3 linked regions of the Homo sapiens genome follow. The protein of the gene in region 2 purifies or fractionates together with the protein of the main gene of each other region. This does not show direct contact. Each region holds a gene or a part of one and is shown on either strand. Other genes may lie near its edges. The genes, in order: MYO5C, RNF144A and ADD1.

Region 1 (3,649 bases), on a different chromosome or scaffold from region 2:
GAACTGAATAAACCATGTTATTGTGCAAGAGCGTGGTTTGCTCCAGTGCGTGCTGCCTTGGAGGTGGAAGTATGACGACGATGAACTTTTTGCAGTGGAGTCCATGTTAGATTGGAAGAGCCCCAGCGTCTGTCCATGTCCAGGCCTGGAATGCGGGTCCTCTGAGTGCCCTGGCTCCCCAGGGCCTGGCCCTGCCTTTAGACCCCTCACTCTCAAACACCTTCTCAGTACCTTGCTCCCAACTGTGGTCCGGAAATGCTTGCTGTTTGGCTTGATGACTTGCTTTGCAGATTTAACTGTAATCATTGAACCAAAAGGAGAAGGAGGAGTTGGATTTTCTTGAAAAAAGTTGGCACAGAGATGAAACTGGAAGGAACAGAGAGGATCTCAATGTCCAAAAGCAACTGCCCACAGTACTCACTCATACAAGCCACGTAAATGGTGACAACAACTCAGCTAAACTAGTGGGCGGTGAACAACCTCACCAACATCTACAGCCAAATCTCAATTCCACAAGACGATCGTCTTTCATAGGGATGGCCCGTGACTTCTTTCCCGAGAAGGGGAACAGAGAAGAAAAGTGTGTAAATGTCTGTATGTGGGTATCACTCTAAGTGTCAGAAAGTGGAAACATCTACTATTCTCACCTCCGTGCCTGGCTCACACTGTGTCTCCACCTGCAATCTCCTCCCTCCTACTCCACATTCTCATCCCTGCAGATCCAAACCCTACCCAGGAATCTCTTAAAATGTTTTCCAGCCCCACCCACTTCGCAATGAATGAATTAATCCCAACTTCTCTGAACCGTCTTCATCTTGTATTTGTACCTCATTTAAAGCACTTACTACCTTCTGCTTTGTATCAGTTATTTCTTTAAATGTCTTATCTTCTCTCAGAGTGAATTTCATATTTTGTTTTGTTTTGTTTTGTTTTGAGACAGGGTCTTGCTCTGCTGCCCAGAAGAAGAGTGCAGTGGCGCAATCATGGCTCACTGCAGCCTCTATCTCCCAGGGCCAAGCAGTCTTCCCCACCTCAGCCTCCCAAGTAGCTGGGACTACAGGCATGTCACCATTCCCTGCTAATGTTTTTTTATATTTTTAGAAGAGACAGGGTCTTGCTTTTTTGGCCAGGCTGGTCTCAAACTTCTGGCCTCAAGCAATCCACCCGCCTCTGCCTCCCAAAATGCGGGGATTACAGGCGTGAGCCACCACGTCTGGCTGGAATTGTGATTCTTCAATGGTTCTATTAGCTGTCCTTCCTGTCATCTGCATGTTTGATTTCTGATTTTGCATATAGTAGAGATTTACAGTAGTTATCTTTTTGAATCTGTGAGCTACAACTTACCACTGTCCAGAGAGTTCACACACACACACACACACACTCTCTCTCTCTCTCTCCTTACTCTTTCCTTATATACATCTAGATCCATGTCAATTATATAATAACTTTAGTTACCCCTAGGACTTTACAGACCTTGCTTGCTCTCAGGATTTCAACCAGCATGTCATAGACGGTGTCTCTGTTTTTCTCCAGGAAACCTTCACATTTATACTCTACCTATACAGAGAAAGCAATTAATTATTCCCAAAGAGGCCAAAGAATATAGCCTCTAAGCACAAGTTTCATCTCTTTTTTAAGAAAGATTAATAAAAAAGGCTACAGAGGCAATCTTACAAAAAGACGTCTGGCTTCTGTGCATCATGGCAGCAGCCCCATTATGTATAAGCTGGGAATGTGTCTTCTCTCCCACCACCTGGGTTTCTCACCTGCCTGCTGATCACTCTGCACTCACCTGTTGGCTCCCTCTGGCCACAGGGGTCCAGTTGCTCCCTGCGGTATGTGCAGTTCCTACAAGAACACCTGACTTAGGTCTCCCTTTGCCTTTGAAGCCACCAGGAGGAGGAAAAAGCTTAGTGGTGTTCATTGGGTTCAAACAGACATCGTTTCCTAAATCAACATTAATGTGGTAGAAAGGATAGAAAAACCGACCAGCTGACCACCAAGCCTTCAAGAGCCACCAAGCCCTCAGAATCAGGTTTAGAGTGGGTCAACCTTTGCACTGCTTGAATCTAGCTTAGAAAAACTCTCCATGCTGCCCTTTCTGATGAAGAAGGCTTCTCGAATGCCTCAAACCATGGCATATCCAGGGTGGCTGCTTCAACATTCAACCTCCCCCTAGTTTATGCCTCTGGATTGCATATCTTAATATGTGATAATTTATTTTTCATAAATTAAAAACGTATATTAAAATTAATTTTAAAAATTGACAATGAGGAAACAGGGGAGAGTGCTGGAATCCGTAAGCAGAGGGTTCCCTGGGCATGGCCTCTGCTTTGTCCCCCAGGTAAGGAAGTATCCTTGCCGGTAGGTAGGTTAAGATCCAGGAACACCGGCTGTTTGCAAACACTTCTTTGTGAATGAAGTACCTGGATTGTTGTACAAATTCTTCCAGAATGGTGGTGTGAGCCACTAGGACAGATAGACAAAGGTGGCAAATACAGAGCTTTCCTGGTCTGGGCGAGCATCTGTGGGGACAGTGTCACATGCAGCTGGTGCCTCTGTTGGGGACTCTGGGACCAAAGGAAGATGTGCTGAGCTGCTACATCTAAGCTCAGCTGACTTGCATTCAATACGACCTGATTTCCCTGGCCAATGAGATTGAAAACCTAATCTAACCCCATAGTGCATGTGGGTTCTTCCCACCAATCAATCCATAGTCCAGCCCAAACGCTGCCTAGTTCTTTTAAGGGAGACTTCTTGGAAGTGGCAGGTGAGAGAATTACATGTCCAGAAACTACATCCTATAAAGAGAGACCCTTGAAAGAAATCCCATATGTGCTTTTTATGGAGTCTGGTCTTTCCCCCTCCCTTTTCCTATGGGACCAGAACCCTGAAATTATGACAATAGCTAGGAAATATAATTTGACATATGATCATTTCATTTCATAGGCATCTTTTCAGGAGCCCATCTGAAAAAGTCTAAGCACTAAAAACTTATCTTTTTTTTTTCTTTTTCTTTTTCTTTTTTTTTTTTGAGACAGGGTCTCACTCTGTCAGCCAGGCTGGAGTGCAGTGGCGTGATCTTGGCTCAATGCAACCTCCGCCTCCCAGGTTCCAGCAATTTTCCTGCCTCAGCCACCTGAGTAGCTGGGATTACAGGTGCGTGCCACCACGCCTGGCTTATTTTTGTATTTTTTAGTAAAGATGGGGTTTCGCCATGTTGGCCAGGCTGGTCTCAAACTCCTGGTCTCAAGCGATCCACCCGCCTCAGCCTCCCAAAGTGCTGGGATTACAGGTGTGAGCCACTGCACCCGGCCAATCCTATATTTTAATATTTTACAGTACTCTGCTAGCACACAAAGGTGATCACAGCTTTCCAGGTTGCTGTCCCCTCCCTCCACCATCAGTCACTCGGGAATGACCAGCTCTGACTCACAGCACCGGCCTCTGCGATAAACATAGACAAGCACAAGCCATTCCTGTGAGCCCTGGCACTGGGCTAGGCCACCAAGGCAACACCCAACCAGGACATGGGAGGAGGTAGGAGCTCCCTTAAGGAAGGAAAACAAATAAGAATGTACATTTAGGGCAGGTGGTTATGGCAATTTTTTCCTTCTGTTTTCTAAGCTTTCTATAATGTGATTTTAAC
Region 2 (3,649 bases):
AGAGAGTTGTCGGAGGCATCGCGGGGACGGGATGGGAGCATGACCCAGGCCAGCTGCCTTTAGCCTTTGGCGTTTCCTCCTCACTGCTCAGCGTGGCGCTCAGTGCCCCAGGCTGGCATGTGCACCCCCTCCTTGCTTTGCTGTGACTGTCAGCTCAGGGGAGCCCCAGGCATCTGCCCCCACACATGTGACCCACAGACAACAACTGCGTTTTCTCAAAAAGCCATTTTGTCAGACCTGACAGCTAGGAACATTCTTAGAAAAGCAAATGTGGAAACTATCAACAAATAAGAGAAGAGCTAATTTTGTCCATTCATTCAGTATGAGGAGCATCCTGGGGATTTTAGATTATTATAATGAAGATAATTAGAGTAGAGCACCTGTTCCTGACCTCCAGCGTTCCTTGTTATTATCAAGTTCTTCTTAATCTTCTGCCACCCCTAACATTCTGACAGTTTTGTGCTGTTGATTAATTCATGCTTAAAAAAAAAAAGGCAGAGGGCAGCCAGATGAGATCAAGGGTCAGCCAGCCATGGCTAGTGGGCCAAATCCAGTCCCGCCGGTGGCCTGCTGCTGTCAAGTTTTGCTAGAACATTCATTTCCAGATCACTGTGTCTGCTTTTATGCAACAGCAAAGCCCAGTAGCTGCGACAGAAACCCAGAAACAACATGGTCCTCAGACTTAGATGATGACTATCCGACCCTCTGCAGAGGAAGTTTGCCAGCCCCTGGATTAGATGACTAGATCATTTCAAAGCTAGACCCTACACAAGATGGTTTCTGGAGAGCTGAATCTGGCTTCCCCATGTATTTGGGGAACATGGTAAACACACAGAGCCTTACACATACGTATGCGTGTGCACCGTCAGGACACCCAGTGGGTGATTTGTCATTAACTTCCTGCTGGTCCCGTGGCAATGCGTGTAGGTGAAGTCCCGGTCCACGTGCGGCGCCAGCATGTTGTGGATTCCAGTGAGTAGGAATCCCATGTGTGACACAGGCGAGCGGGAGCTGCCCGGCGGCCAGTCACAGGGCCCAGACATTTGCAAGGACTTGTCATCGCCTTTCAAGTCGTCTCTGAAACTCAGTTGTCCTGACTACTTCCCAAGAAGAGCCCCGCTGAAAACTTAGAAACCAGTGGCCTACCAGAACGCCTTTGGAAATAGCCCACATTGCACTGGCCTGGGAGAGCTTTCTGGCAGAGCCTTGCTGCTCCCTGGGGTGGCCACTGATCGAGAATTCGGCATCATGCTGGACAAGAGGGAAGATGAAATGAACAACCAGTCTTCCTACAAAGGGCAGCCAATAATTTAAAGAAATGCAATTTTTGGACAAGGATGTGAAGAAATAGATGTGTCAAAGTGTCTTGTTTTTAGAAATAAACTTTGTGGCTAATTCCATTAAATTGGGCTTCTTAGAAATGTGTGCTGTGATTTGGAGAGAAAATCTGGCCCTTGAAGGATTGGTTTCACTCCGTAGTTAACTCGTGGCTTGGATTTGAGAAGGGGAGGCCATCTTAGGCAGGTGAACCATTTGGTTAGAAGAACAATCCAGCCATCTTCCTTCCCTCTTCCTCTCGGTCTTCTAGCAGCATTTTCCTGGTGCTGGCTGTATGCCCAACATGGGGCCATCAGGGGTCCAGCTTCAGAAAACTGTCCCCTAGGGGAGGCAGATGAGCTAGCGCCATGTGCATTGCTCAGAGAAACCCGACAGGCAGGTGGGCCAAGCTTTCCAGGATGTGGAGGCCTTTGAGCTGTGAGCTGAGTGTCAGAGGCAAGCAGGGCTGACCCAGGGCTCCAAGGGCATTCCAGGGGCAGGAGCAGCATTCCTGAGGGATGTCTGGGTGTCTGGAGGTCTGTTGCATGAAGGGAGAAGTTGGGAAGAGCTACAGCGGAGGTGGAGGTGGAAGGGTGGCTTGGGCGGTGCTTCGGTTGGGGCTGGTGGTGCTGGCTGTATTACCTGGACATGTTCCTCCCTGTCCGTGCACTGAGGGGCTCCTTCCTCTGAAGCCCACATGACCCTCTGGCTTAAGTTTGATTTGTCCATTTTGTCTCACTGTACCAGAGGTGCTGTTTGATCCCTGTCGGACTTGGTGCCCGGCGTCCACCTGCCAAGCTGTGTGTCAGCTCCAGGACGTGGGGCTGCAGACCCCCCAGCCAGTGCAGTGCAAAGCCTGCCGTATGGAATTCTGCTCCACCTGCAAAGCCAGCTGGCACCCTGGCCAGGGCTGCCCGGAGACCATGCCGATCACCTTCCTCCCCGGGGAGACCAGGTACCCTTTGTACACAAGCTGCCACCAAAGGCATGGCTGTGGGCCAGGAGAAGCAGGCATGCTTTCTTCCTAAAAGTGCTGTTACAGTGTAAGTGGCTGTGGCTCAGTCAACCCTAACACACACTGTACCTCTTGAGCCTCACTCAAGCCTGTCATTATTTGTATGTCTATTTATTTTTGAGAACTGACTATGTACCAGGCACTGTGTGAGGCCCTGGAAATAGAAAGGTGTGTGAGAACCACACTTAACACGGCTTGGCTGGAATGACAAATGCATGCGTGGTTTGTTACTTTTAAAGGTTGCAAGTCCTGCAGTACCTGAAGTTTCTGCAAGACTTCACTGTGTTGAAGGTGATCTGAAATGGGGGTACAGAAACAAGAACAGGAGTAGGGTGCACTGGTCATAAATACTGTCTGGAGGGGGATGGGGAGACACTCCCTGGTGGCGGCCTCCCCTGCAGCCATAGTCGGGCTGTTTGCCCAGGAGAATGCTGCCGCACCACGCTCTGTACTTTGACATTTCGTAGGTTGATGCATAGGAAATTCATCATATCCAGGTCTTTTTCTCCTACAAAATCTACAAGGTCACGTGGTTCTGCTGGACACTTGCCCCTGCTCCTGTTGAGTCCAGGATCCTCATAGAGGAGCTGCCACTCTACCCACCACCCTCCCCAGGGTGTGCTCACCAGCTGCTCCCTGTGCGCCCCTTTTCCCATTCCACCGTCCCCAGCTCCTGTTCCTTTCCGTGTGACCCCTGTGCCCTGTTCTAGCCCCCGACCCTCTCAGGGTCCCTGCCACACACCCCTGGTCTCCTTCCGGGCGAACCTCTCTTCCCGTGTCTGGAGTGCCCTGCTCTGCCCTCCTCCTTTCCCTGGGGGCTCCTGCCACACTTCAGGTGGGGATCACATCCCTTTGTCAAGCTTCATGGTTCCGAGGACAGGGTTGGGGCCTCCACCCTCTGTGTTCCCCCTGAGATTCTCTGCATTGATTACAACCCTGGACATATTGGATTTGAGTTCTTGCGTTGACAAGGCCGATTCTGCCATCAGGATGAGCTCCTGACACACAGGGCCTGGGCCTTTCTGAGCAGCCTGCATCAGGCAGGCAGCTGCAAGCACGAACCACTTGTACTTATACTTCACGTGTACTTGGCATCTTAGGGGCTTCAAAACTTTAGATGGAGGCTGGTGAGTGTTTGGAGCCTGATGACTTAGTTTTCTTTATCTGTGACATTCTAGTCTCATTTAAATTATTGTCCAAAGATGATCTAAATCAAAATTCAGAAATCTCATTTTGTGGAAATTTTTAAATCAGAAGATGTCACATAAAAACTGGAATTTCTGGCTTCTCTGGGAAATCCGAATCCTAAGCCTCTCC
Region 3 (3,649 bases), on a different chromosome or scaffold from region 2:
GATTTTACTTATGTGAAATGTCTTCAATAGGCAAATCTTTTTGTTTTTTGTTTTTTGTGAGACTGAATCTCACTCTCTTGCCCAGGCTGGAGTGCAGTGGTGCGATCTTGGCTCACTGCAACCTCCACCTCCCAAGTTCAAGCGATTCTCCTGCCTCAGCCTCCTGAGTAGCTGGGAACAGGTGTGTGCCACCATGCCCGGCTGATTTTTTTTTCTGAGACGGTGTCTTGCTCTGTCGCCCAGGCTGGAGTGCAGTGGCACGATCTTGGCTCACTGCAAGCTCTGCCTCCCGGGTTCACGCCATTCTCCTGCCTCAGCCTCCTGAGTAGCTGGGACTACAGGCGCCTGCCACCATGCCCGGCTAATTTTTTGTATTTTTAGTAGAGATGGGGTTTCACCGTGTTAGCCAGGATGGTCTCAATCTCCTGACCTCATGATCCGCCCGCCTCGGCCTCCCAAAGTGCTGGGATTACAGGCGTGAGCCACCGCGCCTGGCCACGCCCGGCTAATTTTTATATTTGTAGTAGAGATGGGGTTTCACCACGTTGCCCAGGCTGGTCTTGAACTCCTGACCTCAAGTGACCCACCCGCCTCGGCCTCCCAAAGTGCTGGGATTACAGGTGTGAGCCACTGTACCTGACCCCCAGTAGGCAAATCTATACAGGCAGAAGGTAGATTTGGGGTTGACTGGGGCTCCAGCTGGGGAGAATGGAGTGGGAATGAGGAATGACTGCTAATGTGTATGGGGTTTCTTTTTGGGTGTTGAAAATGTTATAACGTTAGATTGTGATGATTAGTTACACAACTCTGAATACACTAAAACTCTGTATACTTCATTTAGAGACAGTCTTGCTCTATTGTTCAGGTTGGGGAACAGTGGTATAATCATAGCTGACTGTAACCTGGAACTCCTGGGCTCAAGTAATCCTCCCCACCTCAGCCTCCGGAATAGCTAGGACTACTGGTGCATACCACCACAGCTGGCTAATTTTTAAAAATGTTGCCACTCAAGATGTGTGGCCCTGGATCAAAATGGTGAAATTCTCTGAACTAATTTTTCTCATCTGCAGAAATAGGAGTAATAATAATAACAGTCATATCTAACTGGAGGTGTGAGGCTGTGGTAAGCAAACTTACAATGCTTACAGTATGTGAGGATTCTGTCAGTGTGCTTTCTTTCCTTCTTTTCCAGAACATAGAGGATGGAGGAGCAGGCCTTAAGAGGGAAAGACACAGAAGATGCAATAGAGAGCCTTGTAGCTCTTTTTTGTCTGTCTCTCCCTCTCTCTCAAAATAAAGCCTATGTAGAGGTATTTTTTTGTCTGATACAGCTGCATGTGTTTGCAGTTTAGTAGGAACTTTGTGGTTAAACCATGCTTTCTAAGATTTTCTTAAAAGGCCAACCTTGTTGCCAGATGATACCATTAATCAAGTTATTCAAGTTATTGTCACATAGGGCTTCAGGCAGGAAGGAAGGTTAGGAATGGTCTTTAGTCTCATAGAATGAACTCCCTTTTGGTCTGAGTGTCTCCTTCAGTAGGAAGGGATGTGATGTTAATTGACCAGTCTTTAGGGGGGAAATAGATGACCCCCACCATCCGGATACTCAGTTTTTATTCTTTTTTTTTTTTGAGATGGAGTTTCGCTCTTGTTGCCCAGGCTGGAGCGCAATGGCTCGATCTCGGCTCACCGCAACCTCCGCCTCCCAGGTTCAAGCAATTCTACTTCAGCCTCCCGAGTAGCTGAGATTACAGGCATGCATCACTACGCCCGGCTAATTTTTGTATTTTTAGTAGAGACGGGGTTTCCCCATGTTGAGGCTGGTCTCGAACTCCTGACCTCAGGTGATCTGCCCGCCTCAGCCTCCCAAAGTGCTGGGATTACAGGCATGAGCCACAGCACCCGGCCTCTTTTCTTTCTTTCTTTCTTTCTTTCTTTCTTTCTTTCTTTCTTTCTTTCTTTCTTTCTTTCCTTTCTTTCCTTTCCTTTCTTTCCTTTCTTTCCTTTCTTTCTTTCTTTCTCTTTCTTTCTTTCCTTCCTTCCTTCCTTCCTTCTTTTCTTTTCTTTTCTTTTCTTTTCTTTTTTTTCTTTTCTTTTCTTTCTTTTTTTTTTTTTTTGAAAGAGAGTCTCGCTCTTTCGCCCAGGCTGGAGTACAGTGGTGCGATCTTGGCTCACTGCAACCTCCGCCTCCCGGGTTCAAGCGATTCTTGTGCCCCAGCGTACTGAGTAGCTGGGATTACAGGTGCACAGCACCACACCCGGCTGATTTTTGTGTGTTTTTGTAGAGATGGGGTTTCGCAGATACTCCATTTCAGTTTTTTTCTGAGCAACGTCTCCAGGGACTGAAGCACACATACTTTGACAACAGAATCACCAGCAATGTCACTGACCTAGGGTGTCTGCAGCATTCAGTGTCTTCTATTTTCTGTACTAGGTGTTTTCTGTACTGTTTGTAAAGCAGGAAATATCTTTTTTTTTTTTTTTTTTTGGAGACAGAGTCTTGCTCTGTCACCCAGGCTGAAGTGCAGCGGTGCGATCTTGGCTCTCACTGCAGCCTTGACCTCGTGGGCCCGAGCAGTCCTCCCACCCAGCTTCCTGAGCAGCTGGGCCTGCAGACCCACCCCACCACACCCAGCTAACTAAAAAAATTTTTTTTTTAGTAGAGCCAAGGCCTTGCTATGTTGCCCAGGCAGGCCTGAAGGTGCTTTTAAACTCAGATAAGCAGGACATTTGTAGCTGTGGAAATAGCTGTAATCTAACCATCAGAGTTGTTTTAAGGATACAAATTACATATAGTGTTTAAAGCATAATGAATGTACAGGTTGCTAGATTGGGTTTTACTCTGTTCTTTCTGTAACTTTTTAGAAGTTGGTCACTTACTTTTTTTTTTTTTTTTTTTGAGACAGGTTCTCACTGTGTTGCCCAGGCTGGAGTGCAGTGGCACGATCTTGGCTCCCTGCAACCTCTGTCTCCCAGGTTCAAGCAATTCTCCCACCTCAGCCTCCCCAGTACCTGGGATTATAGGCGCCCACCACACCCAGCTAATTTTTATAATTTTAGTAGAGATAAGGGTTTCACCATGTTGGCCAGGCTGGTCTCAAACATCTGACCTCAGGTGATCTGCCCACCTCAGCCTCCCAAAGTGCTGGGATTACAGGTGTGAGCCACCGGCGTCTTTTTCTAGTATAAGTGTTTAAGGCTATATAGCTCTCTAGAAGCATCTCTTTAGTGAAGCCAATAGTTTCCAACTGTAATATTTTTGTTAGTAATGTATATTTAAATTTTCATTATGATTTCTTTTTTGGCCCATAAATTATTTTAAAATGTACCTTTAAATTTCTAAATATATGGTTTGAAGAAACTCTTCTGTTATTATGTTGTTTTTTTTTCTTTCAGACTGAGTTTTGCTCTCGTCACCCAGGCTGGAGTGCAATGGTGCAATCACGGCTCACCGCAACCTTCGCCTCCCAGGTTCAAGCGATTCTCCTCCCTCAGTCTCCCAAGTAGCTGGGATTACAGGTGCCCGCCACCACGCCTGGCTGGTTTTTGTATTTTTAATAGAGACAGGGTTTCACCACATTGGCCAGGGTGGTCTTGAACTCCTGACCTCAGGTGATCCACCTGCCTCGGCCTCCAAAAGTGCTGGGAT

Evidence for each region.
Region 1: the proteins of RNF144A (region 2) and MYO5C purify together in Homo sapiens (affinity purification with mass spectrometry, with the first as the bait; one large-scale study listed by BioGRID). This does not show direct contact.
Region 3: the proteins of RNF144A (region 2) and ADD1 purify together in Homo sapiens (affinity purification with mass spectrometry, with the first as the bait; one large-scale study listed by BioGRID). This does not show direct contact.

The regions. Positions count from the first base shown.
Region 1 is NC_000015.10:52,247,227-52,250,875, forward strand, and holds part of MYO5C (unconventional myosin-Vc), read right to left. Parts: intron 1,558-3,649; coding exon 1,474-1,557; intron 367-1,473; coding exon 232-366; intron 1-231. UniProt on the Homo sapiens protein: May be involved in transferrin trafficking. Likely to power actin-based membrane trafficking in many physiologically crucial tissues.
Region 2 is NC_000002.12:7,018,409-7,022,057, forward strand, and holds part of RNF144A (E3 ubiquitin-protein ligase RNF144A), read left to right. Parts: intron 1-2,064; coding exon 2,065-2,272; intron 2,273-3,649. UniProt on the Homo sapiens protein: E3 ubiquitin-protein ligase which accepts ubiquitin from E2 ubiquitin-conjugating enzymes UBE2L3 and UBE2L6 in the form of a thioester and then directly transfers the ubiquitin to targeted substrates.
Region 3 is NC_000004.12:2,850,228-2,853,876, forward strand, and holds part of ADD1 (alpha-adducin), read left to right. Parts: intron 1-3,649. UniProt on the Homo sapiens protein: Membrane-cytoskeleton-associated protein that promotes the assembly of the spectrin-actin network. Binds to calmodulin.